Linked DNA regions of Homo sapiens. The protein of the gene in region 1 interacts with the protein of each later gene in a pairwise test. Each region holds a gene or a part of one and is shown in the gene's direction. Other genes may lie near its edges. The genes, in order: PKMYT1, STEAP3, SLC30A8 and CLDN8.

Region 1 (5,178 bases):
TCCGGGTTTTCACTTTGGAATTGGAGATAAGGGATCGTGGGCCCGTGTAGTCTCGGAAGAGGTTGTGTAGTTTAGGATCAAAGAGCTGGCCGTGATGAGGGCAGGGATGCAGGCGCAGCCCGTCTGACTCCAAACTGCCTTGCTCTTAACCCGACTGCAAGACCCTCAAGAACACGGGCCCCATGGTTTTCCTCTTATGTTTCTATCATCTCTAAAATACAACAGCCTGGTGGGCAGGTGAGTATGAATCTGTCCTCTGCCTTTTCTTGGTAGGTGCTTATTGCTCCCATTGCCGTTTAAAGTAGAATAAGTGTGTGGTATAGACATAGCTCTCTTCTGTGGCCTCTTTGGAGCCACAGGGCCAGGTGGTATCAGAGTGGACATGCTGCCCTGTACTCAGCCTCTGTCTCTGCCCCCAGGGCCTCCTGCACTGGCCATGCCCATGCCCACGGAGGGCACCCCGCCACCTCTGAGTGGCACCCCCATCCCAGTCCCAGCCTACTTCCGCCACGCAGAACCTGGATTCTCCCTCAAGAGGCCCAGGGGGCTCAGCCGGAGCCTCCCACCTCCGCCCCCTGCCAAGGGCAGCATTCCCATCAGCCGCCTCTTCCCTCCTCGGACCCCAGGCTGGCACCAGCTGCAGCCCCGGCGGGTGTCATTCCGGGGCGAGGCCTCAGAGACTCTGCAGAGCCCTGGGTATGACCCAAGCCGGCCAGAGTCCTTCTTCCAGCAGAGCTTCCAGAGGCTCAGCCGCCTGGGCCATGGCTCCTACGGAGAGGTCTTCAAGGTGAGTGAGGGGACGGCTTCTAGGCCCATCTGGGGGACCTCCTTTGTGTTTCTGCACCTCCCTTGGCAGGACAGTGTCCTGGGCAGCCTGATCCCCTTCCGTTCCCTACAGCCTGTCCCTGCTGGGCTCACAGGCTCCCTCCACATTTGACTTGGCTGCTCCCATCATCCCCAATGCAGGCCCCTCCAGGGGTTGCTCTGTGCATACTGGCCCCTTGTCCAGAGTCTGGCACGCCCTGCAGCAGCCCCTGTGCCATCTCCTCCGGCCCTGGCGCCAGCTGTGCAGCGTCCTTGGCGAGTCGGCCCAGCCTCTGGCACTGGCCCTGAGTGCAGTGCCTGGCCAGCCCTCCCCAGGCTGGCAGGCTTTGAGCTACCCCCTGCCTGCCATCTTGCTTTTCTTAAACACAGTTTCCAGTCATTTATATTTTCTTTTAGAGAGGAGTTTTCCCTTGTATGAGTCCTGTATGAAGACAATTTTGTTAAAAAGTACAAACAACATTGGCCCCCAGGTCAGCTTTCTCACAGGGGAGCCCACTTTTCACACCACAGCCTGGGCTGCCTGTGTTGCTCTGCAGCTGCTTTTTCCACCTCGTGACACATCCAAGAGGTCCCCTGGGGTCAGTGCAGGTCGGCCCTGGCTCCTCCGTCGCTGGGTCTCCACAGACCCAGCCCGAGGGATGGAGGTTTGTCTGGTTTTGTTATTACCCTGGGCAGGGGTCTGAGACAGATGCCAGCTACACCACCGTGCCCCGTGTGTGAACCCTTAATGGGGTCTGCCAGGTTGTCCCCCTATGTGATTGTGCCACTTGTGGCTCACCCTCACTGTGTGCGTGGGTACCACCTCCCTTCCAGGTGCGCTCCAAGGAGGACGGCCGGCTCTATGCGGTAAAGCGTTCCATGTCACCATTCCGGGGCCCCAAGGACCGGGCCCGCAAGTTGGCCGAGGTGGGCAGCCACGAGAAGGTGGGGCAGCACCCATGCTGCGTGCGGCTGGAGCAGGCCTGGGAGGAGGGCGGCATCCTGTACCTGCAGACGGAGCTGTGCGGGCCCAGCCTGCAGCAACACTGTGAGGCCTGGGGTGCCAGCCTGCCTGAGGCCCAGGTCTGGGGCTACCTGCGGGACACGCTGCTTGCCCTGGCCCATCTGCACAGCCAGGGCCTGGTGCACCTTGATGTCAAGCCTGCCAACATCTTCCTGGGGCCCCGGGGCCGCTGCAAGCTGGGTGACTTCGGACTGCTGGTGGAGCTGGGTACAGCAGGAGCTGGTGAGGTCCAGGAGGGAGACCCCCGCTACATGGCCCCCGAGCTGCTGCAGGGCTCCTATGGGACAGCAGCGGATGTGTTCAGGTGGGGACCGGGGCACGCCAGGTGTTTGGCAGGCTGTGGGAGGCCCTTCCTGGGACGGAAGCTCCATTCCCCAGGAGGGAAGCTCCACCCTAGCCCAGGACACCCGGCCTCAGAGCCACAAGGCTGAGACGCCATCCCTGCCCTCCAGTGGAGAGCGTCTCTGGTCAGGCTGCCTGTGAGCCTCGAACCCTCCAGAGCCACTTTGTGTAACCTGCCTCCTCACAGCTCCACAGGAGAAACAATTGTCACTCCATTTACAGCCAGATTAAGGGCCTTGCCGGAGCCCACTGCTAGCAAGTGGCATAGCTGAGACTGGCCCTAGGTGCTGGGTTCCAGGGTCCACACTGGTAACCACTGCCCTGATCATCAGGATAGTAATACCTGCCAGCAGTAACTGTGGTGCCTGTCCATCAGGGCACTGGGAGGACTCACCACTGTGGCTTGTGGGCTCCCTGGGCACAGAGCCCATATTCCATGATGTCCCCATCCTGCCCAGGGTTCATGATCAGGCCTGTTGGGGTGTCCCTTCCCCCTGCTTCCGCCCCTCCCTGACTGATGAAGACAGCAGCCCTCTCCCACCCACCTCCAAGAGGCAGCCCTGGACTGGGTCTGTGTCCCAGGGCCAACCCTGCCCCTTTCTGTCCCCATCCCGTCCCTGCCAGTCTGGGCCTCACCATCCTGGAAGTGGCATGCAACATGGAGCTGCCCCACGGTGGGGAGGGCTGGCAGCAGCTGCGCCAGGGCTACCTGCCCCCTGAGTTCACTGCCGGTGAGTAGGTGAGGGCGGGAGGGGGTGCTGCCACGGGCTCCTGGGGAGATAGTGGCTGGCCATGGAGGCACTGCTGGGCTCAGGGTGCAGTCGGTGTTCTGGGACCCCGATGTGGCCCTTCCTCATGGGCAGGTCTGTCTTCCGAGCTGCGTTCTGTCCTTGTCATGATGCTGGAGCCAGACCCCAAGCTGCGGGCCACGGCCGAGGCCCTGCTGGCACTGCCTGTGTTGAGGCAGCCGCGGGCCTGGGGTGTGCTGTGGTGCATGGCAGCGGAGGCCCTGAGCCGAGGGTGGGCCCTGTGGCAGGTAAGCTCCCGACAGTGGCGGCTGCCTGCCCTGCTCCCCAGCCCCGGGGGTCCGCCCACCCACATCCTGAGCTCCTCTCCCCCACAGGCCCTGCTTGCCCTGCTCTGCTGGCTCTGGCATGGGCTGGCTCACCCTGCCAGCTGGCTACAGCCCCTGGGCCCGCCAGCCACCCCGCCTGGCTCACCACCCTGCAGTTTGCTCCTGGACAGCAGCCTCTCCAGCAACTGGGATGACGACAGCCTAGGGTGGGTTCAAGTGCAGGGTATGGGGGGCTAGGGGGAAGGTGGGGGATATCACCGGGGCTCCATGGAGATTCGTGGTGAATGGGGACCACTCCCACAAACCTGGCCCCCATCACATCCTGGGGAAGGGGACCAAGACTGGGGGTGTGTGGCCTGGCCAGGCTTAATGCAGCTGGGCATGTGGACTGGCCGTTCAGGGCATGGCTTCACACTTAGGGCACCAGCACCCCAGGGAGTGGCTGGCCGCGCAGCCCCGACCCCAGTGGAGGCTGCCAGTGCCCAGGGATAAAACATTGTCCCTTCTCTGGGAAGAGAAAGCCTCTGGAGTCTGGGGAGCCCTGCCCTGGGAACAAGTCCTTGGTCCCTGGGGCCTGGTGTCTTGAGTGAGAGGCTGTAATTAGGAAACCACACGCTCAGGGCAGACAGCTCTTGGGGACTCTGCCGTTAGCCCCTTCCTTACAAACACATCACCTCATCCCTCGGGGCACTTGATAGCAGACAAGAAGTTCCAGAAAGGCTTACATTTACTAAAAGTTTATTTCAAATCTGCCTCCAAGTCCATGTGTTCTGAAAAGGACAGAGGGGGCCTTGGAGTGCAGCCAGATGGAAGGACTTTGAAGGCTGTCCAAGTGCTGCTTTCAGAGTGCACCAAGTTTTTATTGTCCCTGACTGTGGCTCCCTGCCTGTTTGTCAGGCGGGAGCCTGGAGCCTGCACAGGGACAGAGCTGGTTTCATCCGGCACTCCCTAGCCCTGGACACCCTCCTTGTCTCGCCTGCCCTCCTGCAGGCCTTCACTCTCCCCTGAGGCTGTCCTGGCCCGGACTGTGGGGAGCACCTCCACCCCCCGGAGCAGGTGCACACCCAGGTAAGCAGGTCCAGGGGCTGGGGTGGGCAGGGCTAGCTTTTGGATCCTGAGTGTCACTACTCTCTCCTCCCAGGGATGCCCTGGACCTAAGTGACATCAACTCAGAGCCTCCTCGGGGCTCCTTCCCCTCCTTTGAGCCTCGGAACCTCCTCAGCCTGTTTGAGGACACCCTAGACCCAACCTGAGCCCCAGACTCTGCCTCTGCACTTTTAACCTTTTATCCTGTGTCTCTCCCGTCGCCCTTGAAAGCTGGGGCCCCTCGGGAACTCCCATGGTCTTCTCTGCCTGGCCGTGTCTAATAAAAAGTATTTGAACCTTGGGAGCACCCAAGCTTGCTCATGTGGCAACATGGCCCTTCCTGTCCCTTTATTGATGTCATCCAGGGTCTTAACGCCCCTGAGGCTGAGCCCTGCTGCAGAACCCAGCGCTCCTGGCCTTGGGCCAGCAGCTGAAGCCCCATGCTGTGTGGAGCAAAGAGGTTTCCTGAGCAGGCACATCCCCCGGTGGGTACCTGGAGCTGTTGGGAGTATGGCACTCAAGGTGGAGGGCAGGCACGGCCCAGGGGTCCCAGGATCTGAGGCCGCTGAGCTCCCTGTGTCAGTTTCCTGGAAGAAGCAGCTGCAGCCCTTGTGCCTGTGGCCAGCTGGTACAAGACGGGTCCACGCCCCCTTGGTCCTTTTGTCCTGAATGCCTTACTCCATAGTCTCTGGGCAGAGGGAGCCAGGGCGGGCAAGCTTGTGGCTGCTGGGAGGGCTGGTATGCAGGGCAGAAAGATGGAGATCAGGAAGACTGGCCACAGGCCTGGTGGGAGGAACAGGATAGGGTGAGGAGGCTCTGGGCTGGCGGCCTGGCAGGACTTGAACTC
Region 2 (7,039 bases), on another chromosome or scaffold:
ATCCGGGCCAAACACTTTATCTACAGGAGCTCATTTGTACCTGGAGACTCTTAGGAGGTCGATAATGTTATTCTCCCAACCATGTGACTTTCCAACTCCATATGGACCCCAACCTCTTTTTTTCCACCCCTAACCTGAGACTCCTAGCCACTAACTAACTGCCACATTCTCCTGTCCAAATTCTGCCTCATCGGTTATTCATTCAACAAACACTTACCGAGCACTAACTTTGAGCCAGGCACTCTAAGACCAGCTGAGTCCCACTTCTGGCAGGATGAGTGTTGTTGTCATCAACCACCCCACAAACACCCGTGCCCTCTGCGTACTTGCGAATCTGAGTGAGGAGACACGGTGGCAGTAAGGCTCAGGACCTATAGCTCATGTGAGTGAGCAAGGATGCAAAACCAAAGACACCCGCTCCCCTCACCCACTGAGCTGGAGGGATCAACCACTGTGCCTGCCATCAGGGCTGATGGGCGACTGCTTGTGGATCACAAACTCTTGCGTTGTCACTTCAACCCAGGGGCAGAGTGTGTTCCTCTTCAGGTGTGGCCTGGTCTCGTGAGCCCTGCACTGAATGGGCCAGGCGTTCATTGCTTCAGCACCGTAAGAACACTGTCACCGGAGAATTGTTCGATACTCAACTCTTCCCAGTCAGTCTGTCTTCTGCATGCCCACAGTTACCGGGCAGCGTGGGCAACAAGTGAGCACTGATTGTTCCGCAATCAGGCTGTGACTTACTCCATCTCTGCCTTCTGCTTAATGAGAGCCAGGTGGGAGTTCAGCAAAGATCACATGTTTAAGCCTTGTTATTAAACACGTTAAAAAAATACTGCCCCAAGATTATAAAGCCGACTTCGGTACATATAAAGAGATTTGGGGTCGGTGAATGGGCCCACTAAGCTTTATTTTGTGGTGTCAGCTGTCTTGGTTCATGTGTAGACAGCAGGGCTCCCAAAGCCAGCATGCTGGGGTCTGTGAGGGAACAAGCTTCCCATTTCTTGTATTTATTTATTTATTTATTTATTTATTTATTTTTTGGAGACAGAATCTCGCTCTGTCACCTAGGTTGGAGTGCAGTGGTGCCATCTTGGCTCACTGCAACCTCTGCCTCCCGATTTCAAGCAATTCTCCTGCTTCAGCCTCCTGAGCAGCTGGGATTACAGGTGTGCTCCACCACACCCAGCTAATTTTTGTATTATTAGTAGAGATGGGGTTTTGCCATGTTGGCCAGGCTGGTTTTGAACTCCTGACCTCAGGTGATCCACCTGCCTCGGCCTCCCAAAGTGCTGGGATTACAGGTGTGAGTCACCACAGCCGGCTGCTTCCCATTTCTATAAGCATCCGACTGGTGGGGTGGCCAGTAGGCTGTGGGGAGTGGTGCGTGATTTTCCTGGTGGGCTTGAGAGAGTAACAGTATACCCCCAGTCAGGGCAAGTGTCTCTCTGAAGGTGAACTCTGGGTGCACAGCTAGAGGATACAGTGGCTGTGAGCTGGGCCCTCCAGGTGAGGTCTGGCCTGCCCATTGCCACAGTGGGCTTGCTGGCATCCAGGGGGGCTTTCTGGGTGACTGCCCAGGCCTGCACATGAGTCAGTAGCACGCTGAATGCAGTGGAGTTTGAGGGGACCCACCACTGTCCATCAAATCGCCCCAACCTGGGTGAAAGGCCAGAGCAGCTGCGGGAAGTGACACCAGGCCCTCTGGAGATGACCCTCTGGCCCTTGGAGATGTCTCTGGACTGGCCAGAAAGAAGGTGGTGCCTGGAACTGGAAGGGAAGGAAGCAAGACAGTGCTGGGCCCAGCAGCCAGAAATCAGGGTGATGGGTGGGTGGAGGGGCAGGCATCTGGGAAAGCCCTGCCCTCCTGGTGTTCCCAGATCTGAAGGCTGGAGGCTGGAAACCTTGTGTCACCTGTGCTGGTGTGAGTTCCATTGGGGCTGCCGCTTACCCTCCCATGACCTTTAACATCTGGCATGGCTTGTGGGGGGTGCTGAGAGGAGGAGAAGTCTCAAGGCTGAGGGAGCTCAGGGTAGAGCCAAGGTCTCAGTGAGAACCCCAGGGGGCAGCTGTCACAGCTGACCTGGAGCCCTCCAGGAACGCGTACTCTCCAGCTCCTGTACTCTCAAAAGCAACAGAAAGGTTTGCTTTCCTCAGGTGCGGTTTCCTCACAGTGCAGCTTCTCCAAAGAGATCTGGAGACCCCCCAGCAGCTTTGACAGGAAAATAGAGTCCTATCCACCCCACACCAACACACTGAAGTAGAGACTCTGGGCCTGGGGCTGCCCAGAAACCCACCCACTTAAACTGCCCGGGCGATTCTGGTGTTCACAAATATTTGAAAGCACTGCCTGACACCTGCTGGCTCAACAGGTGTCCACCTAGGCTGGAGTACAGTGGTGCCATCTCGGCTCACTGCAACCTCTGCCTCCCAATTTCAAGCAATTCTCGTGCCTCAGCCTCCCGAGCAGCTGGGATTACAGGTGTGCTCCACCACACCCAGCTAATTTTTGTATTATTAGTTCACCTAAGCAGAGAGCGATGTGAGGGGCTGTGAGGATGTGCAGGGGTGGAGGGCACTTAGGTCCCTCCCTCAGCTGACCATAGAGCACCCAGAGTGGCAGAGGGGCCACGTGCAGTGAGTGGCCACAGCAGAGCAAGGAAAGGTGCACACAAGAACAGTCCTAAGGAAGACATGTGTTTAGGGGTTTCATATTCACTGTTTAATCATCAGGACAGAGAGGGAAAGCAACCTACCCAACGTCACACAGCTAGCACATGGCTGGACCGGAATTCACACACATCTCTGTCCAGCTAGGTCCCCCAACTAACACAGCTGCCTGTCTGAATTCAAAGCCGGGAGAGATTGTCAGGGGTGGGCGTTGGGGGAGATGGCAGGTGCCTTAAGTGCCCAAGGCCTTGGGCTGGATCTTTAAGGAAGGGGGATTGGGATGGGCCAGGAGGTTGTCAAGATTGGAGATGGAAAGAATGCCATTGGCTGTGGTGGGGGGTGGAGTGGGCAGGGACTGGAAGGAGGGGTAGTGGAAGTCAGTCCCTGCCTACAGGCCTGTGTTAGACTCCGCGGAGATTCAGGAATCTAGCCCTGCCCACAGGGGCTTTCACTCCAGTAGAAGAGAGGAGACCCAGGGGGCCACAGCAGTCAGAGAACAATGAGGCCTTGGCTTGGTGTTTGGTGATGATAGGGGAAACCTGCCCAGAACCTGTTTATCAGATGCTCAGGGATCTGAAAAACAGGTTCTGCATGTGGGCTTGAGATAAAGATGCCCGGGATACTTAGATGTGCCCTATTCCAAGATCGCTAGGTTCCAAACAAGTTGAAAACAATAGAATACACTTATCCCTAAGAATGGGCTTGCACATAATTCACTTCAACAATGCAAAAGCTTCCAAACCTCCAGCCTCCTTTGGGCTGCCGGTGTGGCCTCCAAGGTCCACTGAAAAGCCATCCCCAGCCAGCAGAAACATGCCTGTGTCTTCTTCAGCCCCCGTCCATGCTTTGCCCTGGAGACAAGTGCTGTCATCTGTTTGTGGGTCTGTCTGTCTGTCTGTCTGTCCGTCTTTCTCCCCACTGTGAGCACTGACAAGCAAGTAAAGATGACAATGAAGCCTTTGTGGGCACCAAATGCTGACAGCATTATCACTAAGCCAGTGGCAGCCATGGTGACTGCAATAAATTTCCCCCACAGAAATTGATAAATTGCCACTTTCTGCAGCCATTATGTTTGCCTTTGTATCCCGAAGAGTAAACGCCTCTCTCCCTTTCTCTCTCTCGCTCACGTGTGTGTGCGCGCGTTAGATGACATTTATTCATTTTATGCATCCTGGGTTCTACTGGTCGTCCCACCTCAGTTCCTGTAGCAAAGAGACTTGAGTCTGAGCCACTAATTATCACCCGTGAGGTTTCCTCCCCGAGCAGGAAGCAGCAGGCCAGAGCTGCGCTCTCTCAGTGCACTCTCCAACCAAGCATCAGTCACCACTCCCGGTCCAGCCCCTGTGGCCAAGAGCTGGCGTGCAGGCTGCGGGAGGCAGCTGGCTGTGCAAGACCCTGGCAGGGCCCTCGCCTCCTGAGAAACCGAGAGTCAGAACCAAAGCCAGGCTGTCCTGGTTGGAGACTGAGCCAGAAAGGGTGGCTCACCTCACGGTGAGGCTGTCGAGTGACCTGAGAGCCTCAGACCCTCACGTCAGCCGGATGTCGCACCAGCCTGCTGTTGGTAAGTCTGGCTAGGACGCAGATCCAAGGGGGCATGGGTCGTGTGCAAACCCCTCCCACCAGCTCCCTCACCACCTGACCCCTGCCCTGCTGGAGGGTGCCCCTTGAATCTCCAGGAGGTCCGAGGAACTCGACACCTCCCAGAGATCTGTACTGCCTTGGAACAGGCTGCAAAAAGTGCAGTATGAAATGGGAAATATGTATCAGCTGCACGTTTTCATGGCCCCCTTTGGAGGAAAGGGAGTCCAGGTTATTAAGTCAGGAGGCTTTTAAATTTCAGGGGTTCAAGGATTTATCACACACAGTTGCGTGTGTGTGTGTGTGTGTGTGTGTGTGTGTGTGTGTGTGTGTTTAAGGATGTTAATGTTTATGATGCATTTCTGTGGAATGCAGGCCCATTGGGAATTGTAAATTTTTCTTATTGGTAACCATTTCTGCATTGGTTTAGCACGGAACTGCTGCTGCAAGTAAATGAACCAGATTTTTCTGGAATGATTCGAAAATCTAGCTGTTTGTAAAAAGCTCTCTAAATTATTCATTCACTTTTATTTTGCACAGTTGTGTGACGGTAAACTCTTTTCCATCAGACGAAACTTGCGCGCACGTGTATTTCTGCGGGGATTGGCTCGAGTGTGCTTGAGTTTTCTGTATTCTCTTTTGTAGGAACTTCTCAGCCTTCCTTTTAAAAAGATAATAATTTTTTAATGATGTCTAAATAATGATTCCAGGCAGTATTACAAGAAATATAACAGTAAAACGTTTGTAAGAGTCCATCAGAAAGGGAAAATGCCCACAGAGAAAAATAGAAATCTACCAATTAGATGTGTGTGGCTATAAGTGAGCTTTTAAACCATGATTTGAGACTGGCATCCTCTGGCCTCTCTGCCCTCAGGTCAGCTGTGGGAGGCTAGGGGTGGGATAGCAAAAGGGACCTGGGATCAGGTGGGGCTTCCTGGACCCCAGGCCCAGTAAGAATGAAGCCTAGGGGTTCTAGGATAGGGGGCAGCCCTGGATTTGCAGAAACAGCCTGAGAATGAGGGGCTGGAAAGTATGAGTTGGAGCAGCTCAGTGAGGAGACAGAAAACTGAAGCAGAAGAAAGCAGAAGACACCAGAGTCTGGTGCTGACTGGGTGACTGGCTGTTACTCACATCCTGAGCAATGAGCCACAGACCCTCCCCACCCCAGAGGCAGCTTGAATGCAGGGACTGGATGGGCCCAGGGCACAGTGGATCCGGGGCAGGCAAGAGCCAACTCGGGGCCCAGAGGAGGACCTTTAACCTGACTGGGCCTCAGTTTTCTCTTCTGCAAAGTAGAAGGAATTATAGCCTTCTGCAGGTCAAACCCTGTGCCCACATCCACAGGCACGATCCCCGACTTCGCCTCGCTGGCACTTCTCTGCATTTGACTCCTGGTTATTGCAGCTGTGCCCATGCCAGGCATTTGTTAGGTGCTGGGATGTGCCTGCCCCGCTCCTCTCTGTTGGGGAAGACGGAATTCATGCTGTAGGGGAGGCCCGGAGTTTCTACATGGGGCAGTCACAGGGTGGGGGACTTCCCTGAAAACTTCTTATTTGCATAAAATGTGCGCTGCTTTTGACTTATATTGTAAATTTCAGATCCATAAAATGGGAAAGACTTTGCAGAAGCTGTTATTCACTTTACCTGACTGGGAGATGTAGATTGTTCATATCCAAGGGTGTTAGTTTTAATACTAACATTAGCATGTGGGGAAGGGTGATCGAGATGGTGGGGAGTAGGGCCCCCCACCACCTACCCCTGGGACCTCTAAGGGAAAGTACACACCACCGTATGCTAGTTGCATCCTGTTACCTGTGCTGCAGAGCCAAGGGGCCAGAGGCAGGGAAATTAATTCTGCCTTGTAAAGGCACTGGGCCTTCCTGTTGAATTTTGCTACTTGCGGGGAAGGCACTTCCCAGGCAAAAAGATTAAGCCTATAACCTAAGCAGAAAGCAAGCAAGAGCTTTGGGTGGGAAGTGGCCAGAGACATAGATCAGGCAGACCCAGGTTTGGAAGGGCCAAGGAGACAGCACATCTGCCAATGGCAGCAGCTGGGCCTCACCTGCCCTGACACCCCCACCTAATGGGGACTGGGCAGAACCCTCCAAATGGTTGCCATGCCCTGGCCCAGGAGCCTCCAAAAACCCTGAAGCCATTGACTCAGCATCCCTGAAGCCTCCTTCCATGAGTACCCCCATACCAGGCTGCACCTCAATGCACCTTAGATCTGGTGTTTGATTTTCACTTTGACCAGATCTGCAGCAGTCTCTTTGTTAATATTTATTTCCAGTGTTTACATTCATCTTTGCATAAGTCCTCAGTGTTACTAAGTTTATCAAATAGCGAAATGCTTGGCCAGGTCTAACAATGTCACCAAGCTGCAGAAGGGATTAGAAACTCATAGTATTATTATTTCATCACCACTGAGTACAAGAGAGCCCCAGCTAGGTTCTGGGGAGAACAGCTATGACTCACAAATACTCCCCTCCCAACTCACAAATACTCCCCTTAGAATCTAGTCCTTAAATCATTCAAACCACAAAAATGTATTGAGCACTTACTGTGTGCTAGGCCCCGGTAGGTGTTAGAGGCACAGAAATGAGTTTTTTATTGGCCCCCATCCAATGAGGTGACAGACAAGAGAACCAGTGTGTGCAGCCAATGTTAATGTGACAAAAAGTGCAGAGTTAGTCCCAGAGCGTGAAGTCCTCCCTGTCCTAGGCCCAGGTGGAGGCCAGGAGCTGCTCCCCGGGCTGCCTGGACCAGACTTTTGAGCTCTTGGGACCCTGGCGAA
Region 3 (4,259 bases), on another chromosome or scaffold:
GCATCTTGAGAACACATAGGTAAATTTGAACTCAGGAAAGTCTTACTAGAAATCAGTGGAAGGGACAAATAGTCACAAAATTTTACCAAAACATTAGAAACAAAAAATAAGGAGAGCCAAGTCAGGAATAAAAGTGACTCTGTATGCTAACGCCACATTAGAACTTGGTTCTCTCACCAAGCTGTAATGTGATTTTTTTTTCTACTCTGAATTGGAAATATGTATGAATATACAGAGAAGTGCTTACAACTAATTTTTATTTACTTGTCACATTTTGGCAATAAATCCCTCTTATTTCTAAATTCTAACTTGTTTATTTCAAAACTTTATATAATCACTGTTCAAAAGGAAATATTTTCACCTACCAGAGTGCTTAAACACTGGCACCAGCCAAAGAATGTGGTTGTAGAGACCCAGAAGTCTTCAAGAACAGCCGACAAAAACATTCGAGTTGACCCCACCAAGTTGTTGCCACAGATAATTTAGATATTTACCTGCAAGAAGGAATAAAGCAGATGCAACCAATTCATTCAGTCCACGAGCATGATGTGAGCACTGCTTTGTGCTAGACATTGGGCTTAGCATTGAAACTATAAAGAGGAATCAGACGCAGCAAGTGCTTCTGTGTTCTGGTAGCAACTCAACACTATCTGTGGAGAGTAAACTGAAGATGTGCAGGCCAACATTCTGGAAATCCTATGTCAATGGGTTTGGTTTGGAACCTGGACTTCTGCATTTTTAAAAGTTACCCAGAGATGCTTCTAAAGATGAGCCATAGTCTAGAAGATTGTCAACCACAGGAGTTCATTGAGTGGGACAGCTAGACACATACATTGGCAGCTACAATAGTATCATGAATTGCAATGATGTAGTGGGGTATAAAAGGAAAGCGATGGATATTGCCGGATGGGCATGGCCAGTGATGTTTCACGTCATTGAGGTGACAGCTCTGCTGGACTTTGAATTACATATGGAGGCTCTCCAGGAAGACGAAGAAGAGAAGGACATTCTAGGCAAAAAGAAGACTAGGCACAAGGCACACTTATGTTTGTCTGTTAGCTTTTAGTTGAAAAAGCAAAATACATGATGCAAAGAAACCTCTCCACGCTGTGATTTTTAAAACTACATACTTTTTGCAACTTTATGGTTATGAGTATTGTAGAGAACAGGAGATAGGTCTTAGATGATTTTTATGTTGTTGTCAGACTCTAGCAAGGTACTAGAAACCTAGCAGGCATTAATAATTGTTGAGGCAATGACTCTGAGGCTATATCTGGGCCTTGTCATTATTTATCATTTATATTTGTATTTTTTTCTGAAATTTGAGGGCCAAGAAAACATTGACTTTGACTGAGGAGGTCACATCTGTGCCATCTCTGCAAATCAATCAGCACCACTGAAATAACTACTTAGCATTCTGCTGAGCTTTCCCTGCTCAGTAGAGACAAATATACTCATCCCCCACCTCAGTGAGCTTGTTTAGGCAACCAGGATTAGAGCTGCTCAGGTTCCCAACGTCTCCTGCCACATCGGGTTCTCAAAATGGAAAGAATGGTTTATGCCAAATCACTTTTCCTGTCTGAAGGACCACTGAATGGTTTTGTTTTTCCATATTTTGCATAGGACGCCCTAAAGACTAGGTGACTTGGCAAACACACAAGTGTTAGTATAATTCTTTGCTTCTGCTTCTTTTTGAAAATCATGTTTAGATTTGATTTTAAGTCAGAAATTCACTGAATGTCAGGTAATCATTATGGAGGGAGATTTGTGTGTCAACCAAAGTAATTGTCCCATGGCCCCAGGGTATTTCTGTTGTTTCCCTGAAATTCTGCTTTTTTAGTCAGCTAGATTGAAAACTCTGAACAGTAGATGTTTATATGGCAAAATGCAAGACAATCTACAAGGGAGATTTTAAGGATTTTGAGATGAAAAAACAGATGCTACTCAGGGGCTTTATGAACCATCCATCAATTCTGAAGTTCTGACTCTCCCATTACCCTTTCCCTGGTGTGGTCAGAACTCCAGGTCACTGGAAGTTAGTGGAATCATGTAGTTGAATTCTTTACTTCAAGACATTGTATTCTCTCCAGCTATCAAAACATTAATGATCTTTTATGTCTTTTTTTTGTTATTGTTATACTTTAAGTTCTGGGGTACATGTGCGGAACATGTAGGTTTGTTACATAGGTATACATGTGCCATGGTGGTTTGCTGCACTCATCAACCTGTCATCTACATTCTTTTATGTCTGTCTTTCAAAGCAACACTCTGTTCTTCTGAGTAGTGAAATCAGGTCAACTTTACCACCAGCCTCCATTTTTAATATGCTTCACCATCATCCAGCACCTACTTAAGATTTATCTAGGGCTCTGTGGTGATGTTAGGACCCATAAAAGAAATTTATGCCTTCCATATGTTTGGTTACAGATGGGAAATGGGAATGTTGAAGGACATGAAAGAAAGGATGTTTACACATTAAGCATCAGTTCTGAAGCTAGATTGTCTGAGTTTGAATCTTAGCTCTTCCCTTTATTAGCTCTGTGACCTCGAGCTAGTTACTTAAATGCTCTGATCCTCTATTTCCTGATCAGTGAAACCTCCCTATTCAAATGTGTGAGAGTTTAATAAATTAGGACACTTAAAAATGTTGGAGCAGTGCATAGCATGTAGTGTTCAGTACATGTTAAATGTTGTTTTTTATTATGTACAAACATGAGTGGGCACAGAATTTTAAATCATCTCAACTTTTGAGAAATTTTGAGTTATCAACACCGTTCCCACAAGACAGTGGCAAAATTATTGGTGAGAATTAAACAGCTGTTTCTCAGAGGAAGCAATGGAGGCTTGCTGGGATAAAGGCATTTACTGAGAGGCTGTTACCTAGTGAGAGTGATGAATTAATTAAAATAGTCGAATCCCTTTCTGACTGTCTCTGAAAGCTTCCGCTTTTATCTTTGAAGAGCAGAATTGTCACTCCAAGGACATTTATTAATAAAAAGAACAACTGTCCAGTGCAATGAAGGCAAAGTCATAGGTCTCCCAAGTCTTACCCCATTCCTGTGAAATATCAAGTTCTTGGCTTTTCTCTGTCATGTAGCCTCAACTTTCTCTGACCGGGTGCATTTCTTTCTCTGGTTTCTAAATTGCCAGTGGCAAATTTGGATCACTTACTTAATATCTGTTAAATTTTGTGACCCAACAAAGTCTTTTAGCACTGTGGTGTCAAAAAGAAAAACACCTCCCAGGCATATACATTTTATAGATTCCTGGAGAATGTTGCTCTCCAGCTCCATCCCCACCCAATGAAATATGATCCAGAGAGTCTTGCAAAGAGACAAGCCTCATTTTCCACAATTAGCTCTAAAGTGCCTCCAGGAAATGATTTTCTCAGCTCATCTCTCTGTATTCCCTGTTTTGGATCACAGGGCAATCTGTTTAAATGACTAATTACAGAAATCATTAAAGGCACCAAGCAAATGTCATCTCTGAATACACACATCCCAAGCTTTACAAATCCTGCCTGGCTTGACAGTGATGAGGCCACTTAACAGTCCAGCGCAGGCGGATGTTAAAAAAAATAAAAAGGTGACCATCTGCGGTTTAGTTTTTTAACTTTCTGATTTCACACTTAACGTCTGTCATTCTGTTACTGGGCACCTGTTTAAATTCTATTTTAAAATGTTAATGTGTGTTGTTTAAAATAAAATCAAGAAAGAGAGAGTTTGGGTTAAGTCATCATCTTTTTATCACCAAAATCATGGCAGGACATGTTTTTCATGACACCAGTGAGGACTGTAATGAGAATACACTCTTTCACTCTCAGTCATTTATTGGAAGAGATATAACTCATTTGGGGAACATACTTGTCTAAGAGAGATGGAAGATAATGTGTTAGAATCAGGGGTGCTTTTGAAATCATTCTGGTCATGGGCATAAAACCCCAGTGGAGGAAGAAGATGGTGGTCAGAGGTGGTAGGAGCCCTTGACGGTTGTAAAAAAGGAACTTGTGCTTCTTCAACCATAAAGCCAGGAAGTGATGAGAGATGTCAAGCTGAATTGCACCCCTTTCAGAAGTGTCAATCAAGTCCTGGAGACAATGTATCATTATAATTGCCCTATATTTCCTTTCTTCAAAGGGGTACCCATTTGTTAAAAACACGATTATCCTATTTACAGCCATTAAAACCCTATGGTTGTTATACACAGTCCAATAGTACTATCAAACATTATTTCCCTGAATCTGTAGAGTTTAGGAGTGT
Region 4 (7,169 bases), on another chromosome or scaffold:
AGGTAAAAACATGTCCATGACACTATTTCTATTATTGATTTTTTAATTCATGTTCACCATTCTTTTTTCATCTTGGAAAAATGAAATATTGATATGGGTGATATAATATGGGTGAAGTTCTTAAGCACCAGTAGACCCTTCAGAATTATGCAAATTTTATTGCTTGAATTTGTTAGTAGCTAGATGTTACAGACCGGATATTTGTGTACCCACTAAATTCATATGTTGAAATGTTAACCCCCAATGTGATGGGATTTGGAAGTGAGGTCTTTGAGAGTGAAACTTTGAGAGTTGTAGAGGAGGTCATGAAAGTGAAATCTTCATGACGGTATTAGTGTCTTTATAAGAAGAGAATGAGACTGGAGCTCACACTTTCTCCCTGCTATGTGAAGTCATCTCATAAAGACAGCTTTCTATAAACTGAGAAGTGGGTCCTCACCGGAACCCAGTGACACTGGCACCCTGATCTGGGACTTCAGAAGAATGAGAAATAAATTTCCATTGTTCAAGCCACTTGGTCTGTGGTATTTTGTTAAAGCAGCTTGAATTGGCTAAGATACTAGGCAATTTCTATGCAGTAAGGAGTTCATTTTTAAGCAGAGCAACTGAAAATAGATCACACAGAGGTGGTGAAAAGAGCGGTTGGGCATGGTGACTCACACCTGTAATCCCAACACTTTGGGAGGCTGAGGTGGGCAGATCACTTTAGGTCAGGGGTTCGAGACCAGCCTGGCCAACATGGTGAAACCACGCCTCTACTAAAAATACAAAAATTAACCAGCTGTGGTGGTGTGCACCTGTAATCCCAGCTACTCGGGAGGCTGAGGCAGGACAGTCGCCTGAACCTGGAAGGCAGAGGTTTCAGTGAGCTGAGATCAAGCCACTGGACTCTAGCCTGGATGACAGAGTGAGACTCCATCTCAAAAAAAAAAAAAAAAAGAAAAAGAAAAAAGAGAGACATGGTAAAAAGAGAGGGCTGCTAATGGATAGAGAACTGGAAGCATAGCTGGCCATCATGAAAAACAAACAAGATGATGGTTCAAGAGAACATACAGCAATGCACAACAGTATTTTCGGAACAACACAGAGACCTATTGATATGTTCACTTATTCTCTCAGGACAAGATGGTTGGCCAAGTATGGTTAATTAACAGTGGAACATAGTTAAAAATAAACACCCTTGAAAAACTGTCATCACAACAGAAAACTACAAAGCAAATCCAGAAAACAAAAGAAATTGACCTTTGCTTGATAGGCAGAAGCAAAAATTATTTCAAACAGTGATAAGAATTAATAGAAATCCAAGACTGTGGAGTTGAATTAGGTTAAGGATTAATGGGCATAAGACAATCTGATAGTGATTTGTATGTTATCATTTAGGAAGAAAAAGCATTTGCCTGTGTTATGCTATTATCAGGGCTGAATGCAGTTTAGCAAATTTAATTGCTAAACTTAAATCATGCCTTATGATGATGTTGACAGACAGAAAAGCCCGAGGGAGGGTGGAGAGGGGGTTGACATGAGCTCTCATTTCTCTCCTGGGTTCTTGGTAGTACTGTGGTTCTTCATGGAAATGGAAGTACAAACTATTGAATAATCGATGTATTTTGCTCTGTAGTTCTAAATTAGAGTAAAAATGTTATCAATCTGTTATATCTCTATTACTGCTATCTGAATTTTGTAGCCAAGTTAATCAATTCAGCAGGACAGAAAAGTAGATAACAGTTTCCTTTTATCTTTGAATTTAGGCCCCTTTTGTCTTTAGCAAACTCAATATTACCATTTTTTTCTGTCTTTTTATTCCAGTGTCTTTTAGGACATGGTTATTTATAAATACTATGGAGTTAACTGTATCATTGTCTGATAAGGAACCTATTTGGAAACCCTGGGCCACTTCCTAGTAGGGAATTAACTGTACAATAATTCTAATGTGAACCTAGTGTTAATTTCCCACTCAGATCCTCATCTTTTGGCTAGAACAATTTCAATAGTAAAGTACCTAATATTTTTGAAATAAGGAAAATATTTTTATGTAAAATAAGTTCCTGGTAAAATTCAAGCCTCAAGGGAAGAGAGGTTTGGTAATACACAAAGCCAAGAAATATGAATGCGTACCTGGGAAGCAGCTCCCACAACGGCTGAGGCACTCAGAGGCAGAGCTTTCTGCTTCTGTCTCATGCGTTCCTGTGTTGATGTGGATAGTCAGCAATATTTAAACAGAGCTCCTAAGAAACATGCCACACGGGAATTCGAAAAGAAATTTCAATGAAGCAATATATGCCTTGACATCCCTTAAAATGTAGCTTCACGTAGTCATTATCTCAACCAGTTATATTATTTCTTTTTCATTTTTCAGTTCTGTCAATCACTCCTTTTTCCCAGTTTGACAATTAAAGATGAAAAATATCTTCTGTTTATATGTCATTTTTCCTTTTGTGGATTGCACAAAAGGAAAATCTTTAAGCTTTACTTCATTTTCTTTTCTTCTTCACATCATAAAAATGATCCTTTCTTTGAAATTTTACTTTCTCTCTGCTTCATCGGGCTACCTTAAATCCAAATATGGGAGAAAATGTTTTCTGCTCACTTCTTAAACTTTGAAAGTTTAAAATCTCAACTTTTAAAATCTTATTTTCCCAAGATTAATCTAAGTCTCCCTCCACCACAAATCTGTAACTGATAGAAACTTGATGAAGAAAATGTCATATATTTTCTTTTCTTTTTTTTTTTTTTTTTTGAGACAGAGTCTTGCTCTGTCACCCAGGCTGGAGTGCAGTGGCGCGATCTCGGCTCACTGCAAGATCTGCCTCCTGGGTTCATGCCATTCTCCTGCCTCAGCCTCCCGAGTAGCTGGGACTGCAGGCGCCCGCCACCATGCCAGGCTAATTTTTTGTATTTTTAGTAGAGACGGGGTTTCACCGTGTTAGCCAGGATGGTCTCGATCTCTTGACCTCTTGATCTGCCCGTCTCGGCCTCCCAAAGTGCTGGGATTACAGGCGTGAGCCACCGCCCCGGCCAAATGCTGCATATTTTCTGCATCAGCCTAAGGGACACCCTGAAGTTTGGCACCTCACAGGTCAACAAATGAGAATATTTCTGTAAATATTAAGTTTTAACTTTTTATAAGGTTTATAACGTCTGTTTAACAAAATTATAACAACTCATACTACTGTGCGTCTGTCCTGCCTCTTTTTTAGAAGACAGTCTACTTGATCCTCCTTTTGCCCTTTCTACCATATAGTTTTTGTTTTAATAATATCCACAAATGACTCAGATTTTTTGAACCATGAAACTCTCAAAGTTTAATCAGTGAGCAGAAACGATTTTCTCCCATATTTGGATTTAAGGTAGTCCAATGAAACAGAGAGAAAGTAAAACTGTAAAGAGAAAATCATTTTTTATGATGTTAAGAAGAAAAGAAAATGAAGTGGCAGCTTAAACTTTGGAAAGATCAGACAGAGAGCTTAAGGTGATCTCCAGAAGAAAATTGCTAGTCGAATTTTCTCAGATAAACATTTATGCTTAGTATAGCACTACTGTTAGAGCATCATTATTTTGAGAAGAAAGTTCAAATTGTCTTGCGTTTAGGGGTTTCTATGTCCTACTGCAGACATAATATTAAAAGGTAGGAAAACATATTTGGTTAATACCTAATATAATACAGTTTGGTAAATATAGTTCCCTTGTCTTGTAAATATCTTATTTTGAAATATCAGCCATTTGTATAGGCCCAAGGGTCTTGTGTCATCTTCAGAATTCTAGTTCCTTCAGCCCAGGAATTCAAAGCAGCAAGAATAACACCACAAAATAAGCTCATAAGCTTATTTTAATGCTATAGTGCTGGATACATAAGATAATCATCTGGTGATTTTTATTTTGGCAAAAAATGTTTTTATAAGTGAAGATTATCAGAAAAGTGTCAATGAGTATTTTTTCTGGCTTAAAGAACTCCAATATGTTTTCAGTGCCAAGGAGAAGGACAGCCTTGTGTATTTAATTACTTTAGCTTATTTTGTCCTCTGGCATGATCTGTTCCCTGATTTCACCACAGTAGAGCTTGCTTTGAAGTTGTAGAAAAATTAAATCAATCACTTGGATCACATGTGTCCCAAAGAATGTGGCTTCCCAGGTAAAAGCAATCTTTCAATCCCCTACTCTCGTTTCACTTTGGCATTTCAACAGCGTTGCAGAATTCTTCGGCAGATAATTTATTTTATCCCTTGGTCCCAGCAGCTCTTATTAAGAGTTTCAGAATTGCCTGTACAAGGTGCACCTTTCACATTACAAGGGATCGGCTCATTTCTTGATGCTTATGCAACCACTTATAACTATGCCTACAGGTAAACATACTGCTGTCTTCTTGGAAGACCGAGAAGTATAAAGAATGTTTATGTGCAGGTCTAGCTGTTCCAAGTACCCAAGTGTTGGTTTAGACACACCTGGATTACCATCCACCTTTTATTGGCTGAGAAAGTTGCCACACCTGATTTGTAAGTTTACCTGTTGCAGCCAATAGCAGGGCCATCTCAGCCAGCCAGCACTGGATACTATCTGGCCAGAAGTAGCAAAGCAGCTCTTATTTGAAAAACCACTGGGTTCCGAGTTCATTACTACAGGAAAAACTGTTCTCTTCTGTGGCACAGAGAACCCTGCTTCAAAGCAGAAGTAGCAGTTCCGGAGTCCAGCTGGCTAAAACTCATCCCAGAGGATAATGGCAACCCATGCCTTAGAAATCGCTGGGCTGTTTCTTGGTGGTGTTGGAATGGTGGGCACAGTGGCTGTCACTGTCATGCCTCAGTGGAGAGTGTCGGCCTTCATTGAAAACAACATCGTGGTTTTTGAAAACTTCTGGGAAGGACTGTGGATGAATTGCGTGAGGCAGGCTAACATCAGGATGCAGTGCAAAATCTATGATTCCCTGCTGGCTCTTTCTCCGGACCTACAGGCAGCCAGAGGACTGATGTGTGCTGCTTCCGTGATGTCCTTCTTGGCTTTCATGATGGCCATCCTTGGCATGAAATGCACCAGGTGCACGGGGGACAATGAGAAGGTGAAGGCTCACATTCTGCTGACGGCTGGAATCATCTTCATCATCACGGGCATGGTGGTGCTCATCCCTGTGAGCTGGGTTGCCAATGCCATCATCAGAGATTTCTATAACTCAATAGTGAATGTTGCCCAAAAACGTGAGCTTGGAGAAGCTCTCTACTTAGGATGGACCACGGCACTGGTGCTGATTGTTGGAGGAGCTCTGTTCTGCTGCGTTTTTTGTTGCAACGAAAAGAGCAGTAGCTACAGATACTCGATACCTTCCCATCGCACAACCCAAAAAAGTTATCACACCGGAAAGAAGTCACCGAGCGTCTACTCCAGAAGTCAGTATGTGTAGTTGTGTATGTTTTTTTAACTTTACTATAAAGCCATGCAAATGACAAAAATCTATATTACTTTCTCAAAATGGACCCCAAAGAAACTTTGATTTACTGTTCTTAACTGCCTAATCTTAATTACAGGAACTGTGCATCAGCTATTTATGATTCTATAAGCTATTTCAGCAGAATGAGATATTAAACCCAATGCTTTGATTGTTCTAGAAAGTATAGTAATTTGTTTTCTAAGGTGGTTCAAGCATCTACTCTTTTTATCATTTACTTCAAAATGACATTGCTAAAGACTGCATTATTTTACTACTGTAATTTCTCCACGACATAGCATTATGTACATAGATGAGTGTAACATTTATATCTCACATAGAGACATGCTTATATGGTTTTATTTAAAATGAAATGCCAGTCCATTACACTGAATAAATAGAACTCAACTATTGCTTTTCAGGGAAATCATGGATAGGGTTGAAGAAGGTTACTATTAATTGTTTAAAAACAGCTTAGGGATTAATGTCCTCCATTTATAATGAAGATTAAAATGAAGGCTTTAATCAGCATTGTAAAGGAAATTGAATGGCTTTCTGATATGCTGTTTTTTAGCCTAGGAGTTAGAAATCCTAACTTCTTTATCCTCTTCTCCCAGAGGCTTTTTTTTTCTTGTGTATTAAATTAACATTTTTAAAAAGCAGATATTTTGTCAAGGGGCTTTGCATTCAAACTGCTTTTCCAGGGCTATACTCAGAAGAAAGATAAAAGTGTGATCTAAGAAAAAGTGATGGTTTTAGGAAAGTGAAAATATTTTTGTTTTTGTATTTGAAGAAGAATGATGCATTTTGACAAGAAATCATATATGTATGGATATATTTTAATAAGTATTTGAGTACAGACTTTGAGGTTTCATCAATATAAATAAAAGAGCAGAAAAATATGTCTTGGTTTTCATTTGCTTACCAAAAAAACAACAACAAAAAAAGTTGTCCTTTGAGAACTTCACCTGCTCCTATGTGGGTACCTGAGTCAAAATTGTCATTTTTGTTCTGTGAAAAATAAATTTCCTTCTTGTACCATTTCTGTTTAGTTTTACTAAAATCTGTAAATACTGTATTTTTCTGTTTATTCCAAATTTGATGAAACTGACAATCCAATTTGAAAGTTTGTGTCGACGTCTGTCTAGCTTAAATGAATGTGTTCTATTTGCTTTATACATTTATATTAATAAATTGTACATTTTTCTAATTATTTGACATTCTTTCACAAGTCTCCTTTTGTTTCTGTTTTATTAACTTGTAGAAGAATGTTGAAAAGCCTGATAATTTTTTATTCTCCAAATTGAGAAAGAATGTCAAGATTTGCCTTGTAAAGACAAACAGTGCATTAATTTTTGAAAATATAAAGTACTCTATGTTATTTATGTTATTTAACAACAATATACCTTATAATCATTGGATCCCTATACCAATATTCAATGCAGATAATATATTTATAATTTAAGATAGTACTATAAATTCAAGCAAATCTATATGTTATAAATATTATGTATATAACAGCCAGGTTTGAAAAATTTTCTGTAGCTAAATATATATTTCTACTTCTGAGAAATAATAAATAATATTGTCTAATGTTCTGGGGGCATGTATTACATGCTAGGACCTCTACTGCTTATATGAATTGTTATTAAATCTTTTATGAGACTGATAATGTTATTAGTTCAATTCAAAGATGAGGCTATCTCAGAACAATTCATTGATTACTCAATAGAATCAGGAGATTTATAAAAAGGCT

The links.
Region 2: the proteins of PKMYT1 (region 1) and STEAP3 interact in a two-hybrid assay, tested with the Homo sapiens proteins (one study listed by BioGRID).
Region 3: the proteins of PKMYT1 (region 1) and SLC30A8 interact in binary tests that used the Homo sapiens proteins (3 or more experiments, as listed by UniProt).
Region 4: the proteins of PKMYT1 (region 1) and CLDN8 interact in binary tests that used the Homo sapiens proteins (3 or more experiments, as listed by UniProt).

The regions. Positions count from the first base shown.
Region 1 is NC_000016.10:2,972,273-2,977,450, reverse strand, and holds the end of PKMYT1 (membrane-associated tyrosine- and threonine-specific cdc2-inhibitory kinase), read left to right. Parts: exon of another isoform or gene 1-382; coding exon of another isoform or gene 383-419; coding exon 420-787; intron 788-1,638; coding exon 1,639-2,132; intron 2,133-2,794; coding exon 2,795-2,901; intron 2,902-3,033; coding exon 3,034-3,206; intron 3,207-3,293; coding exon 3,294-3,451; intron 3,452-3,966; exon of another isoform or gene 3,967-4,197; coding exon of another isoform or gene 4,198-4,235; coding exon 4,236-4,313; exon of another isoform or gene 4,314-4,386; coding exon 4,387-4,498; 3' UTR 4,499-4,643; downstream 4,644-5,178. UniProt on the Homo sapiens protein: Acts as a negative regulator of entry into mitosis (G2 to M transition) by phosphorylation of the CDK1 kinase specifically when CDK1 is complexed to cyclins. Mediates phosphorylation of CDK1 predominantly on 'Thr-14'. Also involved in Golgi fragmentation.
Region 2 is NC_000002.12:119,226,807-119,233,845, forward strand, and holds part of STEAP3 (metalloreductase STEAP3), read left to right. Parts: intron 1-3,813; 5' UTR 3,814-4,206; coding exon 4,207-4,228; intron 4,229-7,039.
Region 3 is NC_000008.11:117,172,995-117,177,253, forward strand, and holds the end of SLC30A8 (proton-coupled zinc antiporter SLC30A8), read left to right. Parts: 3' UTR 1-3,720; downstream 3,721-4,259. UniProt on the Homo sapiens protein: Proton-coupled zinc ion antiporter mediating the entry of zinc into the lumen of pancreatic beta cell secretory granules, thereby regulating insulin secretion.
Region 4 is NC_000021.9:30,213,468-30,220,636, reverse strand, and holds CLDN8 (claudin-8), read left to right. Parts: upstream 1-4,539; 5' UTR 4,540-4,711; coding exon 4,712-5,389; 3' UTR 5,390-6,631; downstream 6,632-7,169.